Linked DNA regions of Homo sapiens. The protein of the gene in region 2 interacts with the protein of the main gene of each other region in a pairwise test. Each region holds a gene or a part of one and is shown on either strand. Other genes may lie near its edges.

Region 1 (3,296 bases), on a different chromosome or scaffold from region 2:
AGGAAGCTGCCCTCTGACACTGATACAGAAGGGAGATGCAAACGACAGGACATGGCCCCAAGGGGCTGCGAGGTGCTTATGGGGGAGAGAGAATCCAGAAGGGTGATGCCAGCATCAGCCAGATGCCGGGGTGTGGACTAGTGACAGCCATTGGCTTCTGCTCCATGAGGGCCTCTTGCTGACAGTGGTGGGGTTTCTGTAACCCCACCTGACTGGGCCCATGGATGCCGTCTCCAAAGGTGGAAGCAGCTTGGTGAAGTGGGCAGAGTGGTGTTCCTGAGGCCAGAAATGATGGAATCCCTAACTCAACTCTTAACTGCTGTGTGACTTCTGGCAAGTCATTTTGCCTCTCCGAGCCTCAGTTGTCTCATCTGCAAAATGGGGATGACAATGCCTACCTCTCATAAAGACTGAATGACCTAATGACTATCAAATGCTGATGTGTAGTAAGTGCTCGAGAAATGGGGATGATAATGCTGATTTGTTCAGGGCCACTCAGGTTTTGGTTGGAGGCCTTGTACTGGAACAGTGTGACCTTGGGAAGGGTAGAGTGTCCTCTACCCTTTCTGAGCCTCAGTTTCCTTCTCTCTTTCCTCTTCCCTGTGTTCTTGAGTCAACTCTCTGGAAAGCAGAGGAGAAAGAAAAACCTGGAGTTGTTCCCAGGGAGACTAGAAAGGGAATCTCAGTTCATCTTCACCCCATTCTCTGGAGCTCCTTCCCCCAATGATTGACCTGAGATATTCCCCCTAGTGCCTCAGTTTCCCCCATGCCCTAGAGCTGTGATAAGATCAGGGCTACCTCCTCTCCCCTGCCCTCCTCAGGTCACTAAGGGTCAGAGCGATGCCTGGATGAGACAGTGTCTCATCCCTCTCCATGCCGTCTATTCCCATTGATGGCAGCAATTTGAAGGTGTGGCAGGTCTTAGGAGATTCTTTTGGGGAAGCAGGAGCCTCTTCCTCCAGGCTGACCATGGTGTGGTCACAAAAGCCATATAGAGTCCACTCTGGAGGAGAGAAAACTAGAAGAGGAGAGAGGAGAGTAAAACCCTCTTTTACTCCCTTGCTAACTTGGAATGACTTTGGAGCAGACTCGTGTATGATGGGGTGGAGTCGGAGGAGAGCATCCTCTAGTCATAGCATCTGAGCCGCAGCGTGGTGACTCAGAGCATTTGTCTTGGTGTCTGTGCTGCTTTGGGGAGGCCAGAGCTGCTGGCAGAAGGACAGGCTCCCCAACAGTGCTCAAAATCACCCCAACCTCACAACACATATCACTGAAACAGCAACATGGCTACCAGGTATTTAGCACCTACTCAACGTCAGACTCTGTGCATGCATTTATTATCCATAGCTTCACAGCGACGCCGTAAGCTGAGTATCATTTCTCCCATTTTGCAGATGTGGAAACAGAGGCTCTCTCAAGATCACAGAGCGAGTAAGTGGTAGAGGCCACTTTGATTTGAAGCCAGATCACCTGTCTTAAAAGCCCAGGTTTTGCCTCTGTACAATGCTGTCTCACCAAGACAGAAGGGAGAAACCAAGGCCTCTGTTGTGAATTTGTATAACCTTGATATTTGTACAACCAGATTTCATGTGAAGAAACACGTTGAGGGGTGGGGATTACGATGTGCTTCGTCTCCCTGCCCCAGCAACCTCCTTGCCATTTCAGAATTAGAATTCCAGCTTCTATGAAAAGACCGCGTGTAGTTGGGGTTTCAGCACCATGGACAAGACACCAACTCTGGAGGCCTAGAAAGAGCCGGGGCTGGAGGAGAGGGCATGCGCAGCAGAGTGGGGTGGGGTGTTGGCTTTGGTGCTCCCTGGAGTTGACACATCTTGGCTTTGCCTCCTCCGCCTTTCCATCTGCGGAAGGTTGCCTGGGAATCTGGCTCTGCTCCTGCCTCCTTCTGACCTCATCTCCCCATATCCAACCCACCTCTGGCCTCGAGAACTAAGCAGGGCTCTCACGCAATTTAGGAACTGGACAAATCCCAGTGCCGGGAAAATCCCTGGCTGTCAAAGCCCAGATGTATTCACAGACCGCAAACACACCCTTTGCGTAGCTCATGATGAATTGTGCACACCACTGCCCACGGGCATTAAATAGTAAATAGAGGTGGGCCTAATTTTGTGTAAATCTAATATATGAAAATCCACGTTGATTACAGAAACACATGGTTTAGAGGAGGGCTTCACATCCCAGCTTTCACGGACTCCTAGGGGTTTCTGGTGGAAACCTAGAGACTTCAAGGTCATCTCTGAACCTTCTGGAAGTGTGAAACGTTGTTTTCTTGTCTGTGTGTGTGTGTGTAAAAATTTACAAGCCTTTTATTTTCTGGGGAGAGGTTTGTGTGTGTGTGTGTGTGTGTGTGAGATTTCATTAGATTTTCAAAAGGCTCATGAAGTTTAACAAGTGAAGAGCACTGCTGAGCTAAAGAATGATCCAGCTCAGAGAGCCCTTTGGGACTGTGGGGGCCAGTTTGCAAAGTCAAATTCTAACCTCCCCGGGCCCATGCCTTCCTTTCAGTGGCTGCTGGGAAGTAGCTTCTTTCTCTTCCTCCCTCCTACCCCTTCCTCCTCTTCCTGTCCACTTTTGAGAATGGAGATGCCTGCCAGTTCGCAGTATAATTGAGCTATAAAATGCCAAGGTAACCAGCATCCTTAGGAGCCTATTAAGAGATTTAGCTGCAAACATTGGCTCTGTGCACACATTCTCAAAAAAGCCTTTCTATTTTGTGGGGCTCAAGAGTAATTGCCCAGGCAAGACTATTGCTCCCAAATGTGAAGACAATCCACATACAAAGCAATTGCCAAGCTCTGGACAGTAACAGGTCCTCTTTTTCAAGTACTGTTCAATTGCAATTGATTTTGTGTGTGTCTGTGTGTGTGACAGAGTCTCGCTCTGTCACCCAGGCTTGGAGTGCAGTGATGTGAGCTTGGCACACTGCAACCTCCACCTCCTGGGTTCAAGCAATTCTCCTGCCTCAGTCTCCTGAGTAGCTGGGATTACAGGTGCCTGCCACCACGCCTGGCTAATTTTTGTATTTTTAGTAGAGGCAAGGTTTCACCCTGTTGGCCAGGCTGGTCTCAAACTCCTGACCTCAAGTGATCTGCCTGCCTCGGCCTCCCAAAGTGCTGGGATTACAGGCGTGAGCCACTGTGCCCAGTCAATTGCAATTGATTTCTGTAGCGCTAAAGGCTTTGGAAGGTGCTGGGCTCATTGTAATGTGTGTGTTGGCCTGTGTCACGTATTGTCTTTGCAGGGATGGTTGTTCTTCTGAACCATCTGATTTGTGTTTC
Region 2 (3,500 bases):
GGGATCTTTTCTTGCGTAGGAACCTCCTTTTGCCTTTTCTTTCCCTAAGCTTACACAGAGACTGGGGCTACTAGAGATGCTAGGAAAACTACTTCTTTAAAAATGCTTTATCACCAAACAGTATTGAAATGTGTTCAACTTCAAAAGAAGGTTAGAACAAAAAGTTGGCTGTGCAGCCTGGCCTGCGAGTGGCAGCTACACGGCCAGGTTACCCTTTGTGACTGTGCTTCCAAAAACATCAGCCCTGGAGCTTCAGGATTCACCACACATATAATGGCTTCCCAAAGGTCTCTGTCCCTGAGGTTCTGTGTGCAGGAGGTGGTCTGCAGAACCTTGCTGTGTTCTAAGGCTGCACCTTACTGCCTGGGTTTGGGGCTTCCTTACATTTTTTTAAGTGTGAACCTGTGGTGTTTTCCTTCCTTAATGATATAAATGAGCTCCCTTGGTTGGCTTTTGGCAACTGCCTTAAAGATTTCCTTCAGATGACCCTATTCTGTCTATTTGGGAGAAAAGGAGTCTTTCTTCAGAGAGCTGTGGCCTTGGGATGCTGGCTCCAGTGAGAGAGTCTTTGATTGTCCCCCTGGGACGGGTTCTCTAGATGACACCACGCAGCCTTATTTGCCCGAGGACCCCATTCATCTTGATTGACAGGACTGTAAACTCAAAGACTCAACACATTTTTATTGTGCACCAACTATCTGTTTGGTATTGTGCTGGGTGCTCTAACATGGGGCCTTAAATTATTTTTCACTTACCATGAAACTGGCGAGGAAAAAACTCACAGAACATTGGAAAATCCTCTACTAAGAGTTATTTATATGTGGAGAGTAATATTGGTTGCTCATTTCTCCATGTGAAGAACACATAAGACTACTTTCTGTTAGCAAAATCAGACAGTTCTATTGGCTGAAGCCAAATAACAAACAGCTAAGTAGAACTAGTGTCCTGTTTGTTTCTGCCCAGACTGCAGAGTGGGATGAACTTGCAGATATGCTTTGTCAACGACAGTGGCAGTGATAAGGACAGTGATGCTGATGACAGTAAGACTGAAACCAGCTTGGACACCCCCTTGTCTCCCATGGTGAGTCCAAACAGCACCAGCTGAAGCTCGGTGTTGTGATTTCCGGGCCATTTAGCTTCTTTTCTGTTGTAAGGTGAATCAGGAACAAACATTTCAGAGATTAAAGAAGAAAAGTTTCTTGGAATTGCATGCTCCTAAAATTTGACAATGATTAAAAAGTCAAAGTTGTAATAAAATAGAGATATATAAGCTTTCTTAAAGTTAATAACTATTTTCATATTAAACCATTAGAGAAATCACCAGCCTGGGCAACATGGCAAAACCCTGTCTCTATAAAAAAATACAAACATTAGCTGATCATGGTGCCTATAGTCCCAGCTACTCAGGAGGCTGAGGCGGGAGGATCAGCTGAGCCCAGGAGTTCAAGGCTGCAGTGAGCTATGATGACACCTCTGCACTCCAGCCGGGGCAACATAGTGAGACCCTGTCTCTAACGAGAGAGAGTGTATTAGTTCATTTTCATGTTGCCGATAAAGACATATCCAAGACTGGGCAATTTACAAAAGAAAGAGGTTTAATGGACTTACAGTTCCACATGGCTAATGAGGCCTTGCAATCATGGCGGAAGGCAAGGAGGAGCAAGTCACGTCTTACATTTTTAAAACCATCATATCTGGTGAGACTCATTCACTATCACAAGAACAGTACAGGAAAGACCCACCCCCATAATTCAATTACCTCCCACTGGGTTCCTGCCACGACACATGGGAATTGTGGGAGTTACAATTCAGGATGAGATTTGGGTGGGTACACAGCCAAACCATATCAGAGAGAGAGAGAGAAATTAGATATGCTCTAAAAATTATAAAGAGAAAATAAGCTAAATCCAGTTCTTCCCTATTGGGCTTAGAAATATTAGCTCATGTCTTTCCTTCCCATTACAGAAGTTGGCTGAATAATCATGGGTGCCTGTTGCTGGAATTCTTTCCTCTCTGTGAGGTCTGTCTATAGCCTTTTTTACCAAAGACCAACAAAGAGGAAACTGTTGTCGTTGAGTGCAGTGCGACATCAGAACATCACTGGATACATGAGATCCTGTCCACGCAAAGAACCTACGTAGGGCCTTGGCTTCGAGTCAATATTTTGTTATGTCTGTTCACTTCAGGAAAGTTTTGAGGCCAAGAATCAAAGACATATTTCAAGGTTGTTGTAAATATATTTCCCATTATTAACTATACTGCTCTCTCTGTTTATGCTAAAATCTATTTTAAACTAGACCCTTTTTCTGTTACTTGAGATTTATCAACTCAAGTAGCAAGTCACATTGAGGGAGGGAACTCTGAGCTGCTCTGAGAGAAGGCTCAGAGGATGTTGTAGCCCATCTCTAAGTGGATGCTAGCTGGCATGCATGGAAGGCTCAGGCTGCTCTTTTTCCCTTTGCAGAGCAAACAGAGTTCTTCCTATTCTGATAGAGACACTACTGAAGAGGAGTCTGAATCCTTGGATGACATGGACTTCCTTACAAGGCAAAAGAAATTGCAAGCTGAAGCCAAAATGGCCCTTGCCATGGCCAAACCAATGGCCAAAATGCAAGTAGAAGTGGAGAAACAGAACAGGAAAAAGTCTCCCGTCGCTGATCTTGTAAGCAGCAAAGGCTGAAATGCAAGGAAGTGTTTGGGAGCCAGAAATGGTTGACACTGTCCCAGTCCTTTCCCAGAATTATGCAAACTTGTGTTTCTCTAAGGCGGTTTGTAAAAAGTCCTGTCATTGAGAAATGATTAAGTTTGTTTCTTTTTCCTTCCTACTGTAGGACTGAAAAATACAGAAGCAATAGATTTCACAAAAGTAAAGTTTGCTGTTGATTGATGTCTACTGTTTCTTAGCAACAATATTAGCTGCCACGGGAATATTTAAATTCCTTTGAAGCGATCTCAATCTAAGAACCTATTGGTCTTGGCAAACTTACTATTGCTATAATTGTCATTCTCATATTTCAATAAAGACAATATCACATAGTGAATAGGAGTCCTGGACTTTGGAGTTTAAGTCTAGCTCTGCCATTGACCTGCTATGAAGTTCTAAGCAAGTTACTTAAGTCTCAGTTTTCTCATCTATAAAATGGGGATGATAATGCCTGTGTCAGAGTATGATTGTGAGGATTCAGTGAGATAAAGTATTCAAAGCACATAGCACAGTGCTTGTAGCATGGTATAAATTATTAAATAGTAGCTGATACTAATTTTTTCCATGTCATTGATATTATTGATGTTCCTTGATAATTCATTTGTGGCTATAACATTGACTCACAACCCATATTAAAGACGAGTCAAAAAGCTTTTGATGCTGGTAGTGTTGTGTTTTGATGCCAGTTGCATATTAGGTAATGTAGTGTGGATGTAGGGCCCCACATTGGGAAAGACACAGACTGGGAAAGCTTTTAATCACTGAATTGCAGTGGGTGGGTGAGTGGGTCTTTTAA

What was found. Proteins that work in one complex are often made in the same cells at the same time.
Region 1: the proteins of SCHIP1 (region 2) and HTR6 interact in a two-hybrid assay, tested with the Homo sapiens proteins (one large-scale study listed by BioGRID).

The regions. Positions count from the first base shown.
Region 1 is NC_000001.11:19,674,875-19,678,170, forward strand, and holds part of HTR6 (5-hydroxytryptamine receptor 6), read left to right. Parts: intron 1-3,296. UniProt on the Homo sapiens protein: G-protein coupled receptor for 5-hydroxytryptamine (serotonin), a biogenic hormone that functions as a neurotransmitter, a hormone and a mitogen. Also has a high affinity for tricyclic psychotropic drugs.
Region 2 is NC_000003.12:159,885,244-159,888,743, forward strand, and holds part of SCHIP1 (schwannomin-interacting protein 1), read left to right. Parts: intron 1-963; coding exon 964-1,081; intron 1,082-1,965; exon of another isoform or gene 1,966-2,224; intron 2,225-2,464; coding exon 2,465-2,662; intron 2,663-3,500. Other genes in the region: IQCJ-SCHIP1 readthrough transcript protein, read left to right, coding at 964-1,081, 2,465-2,662.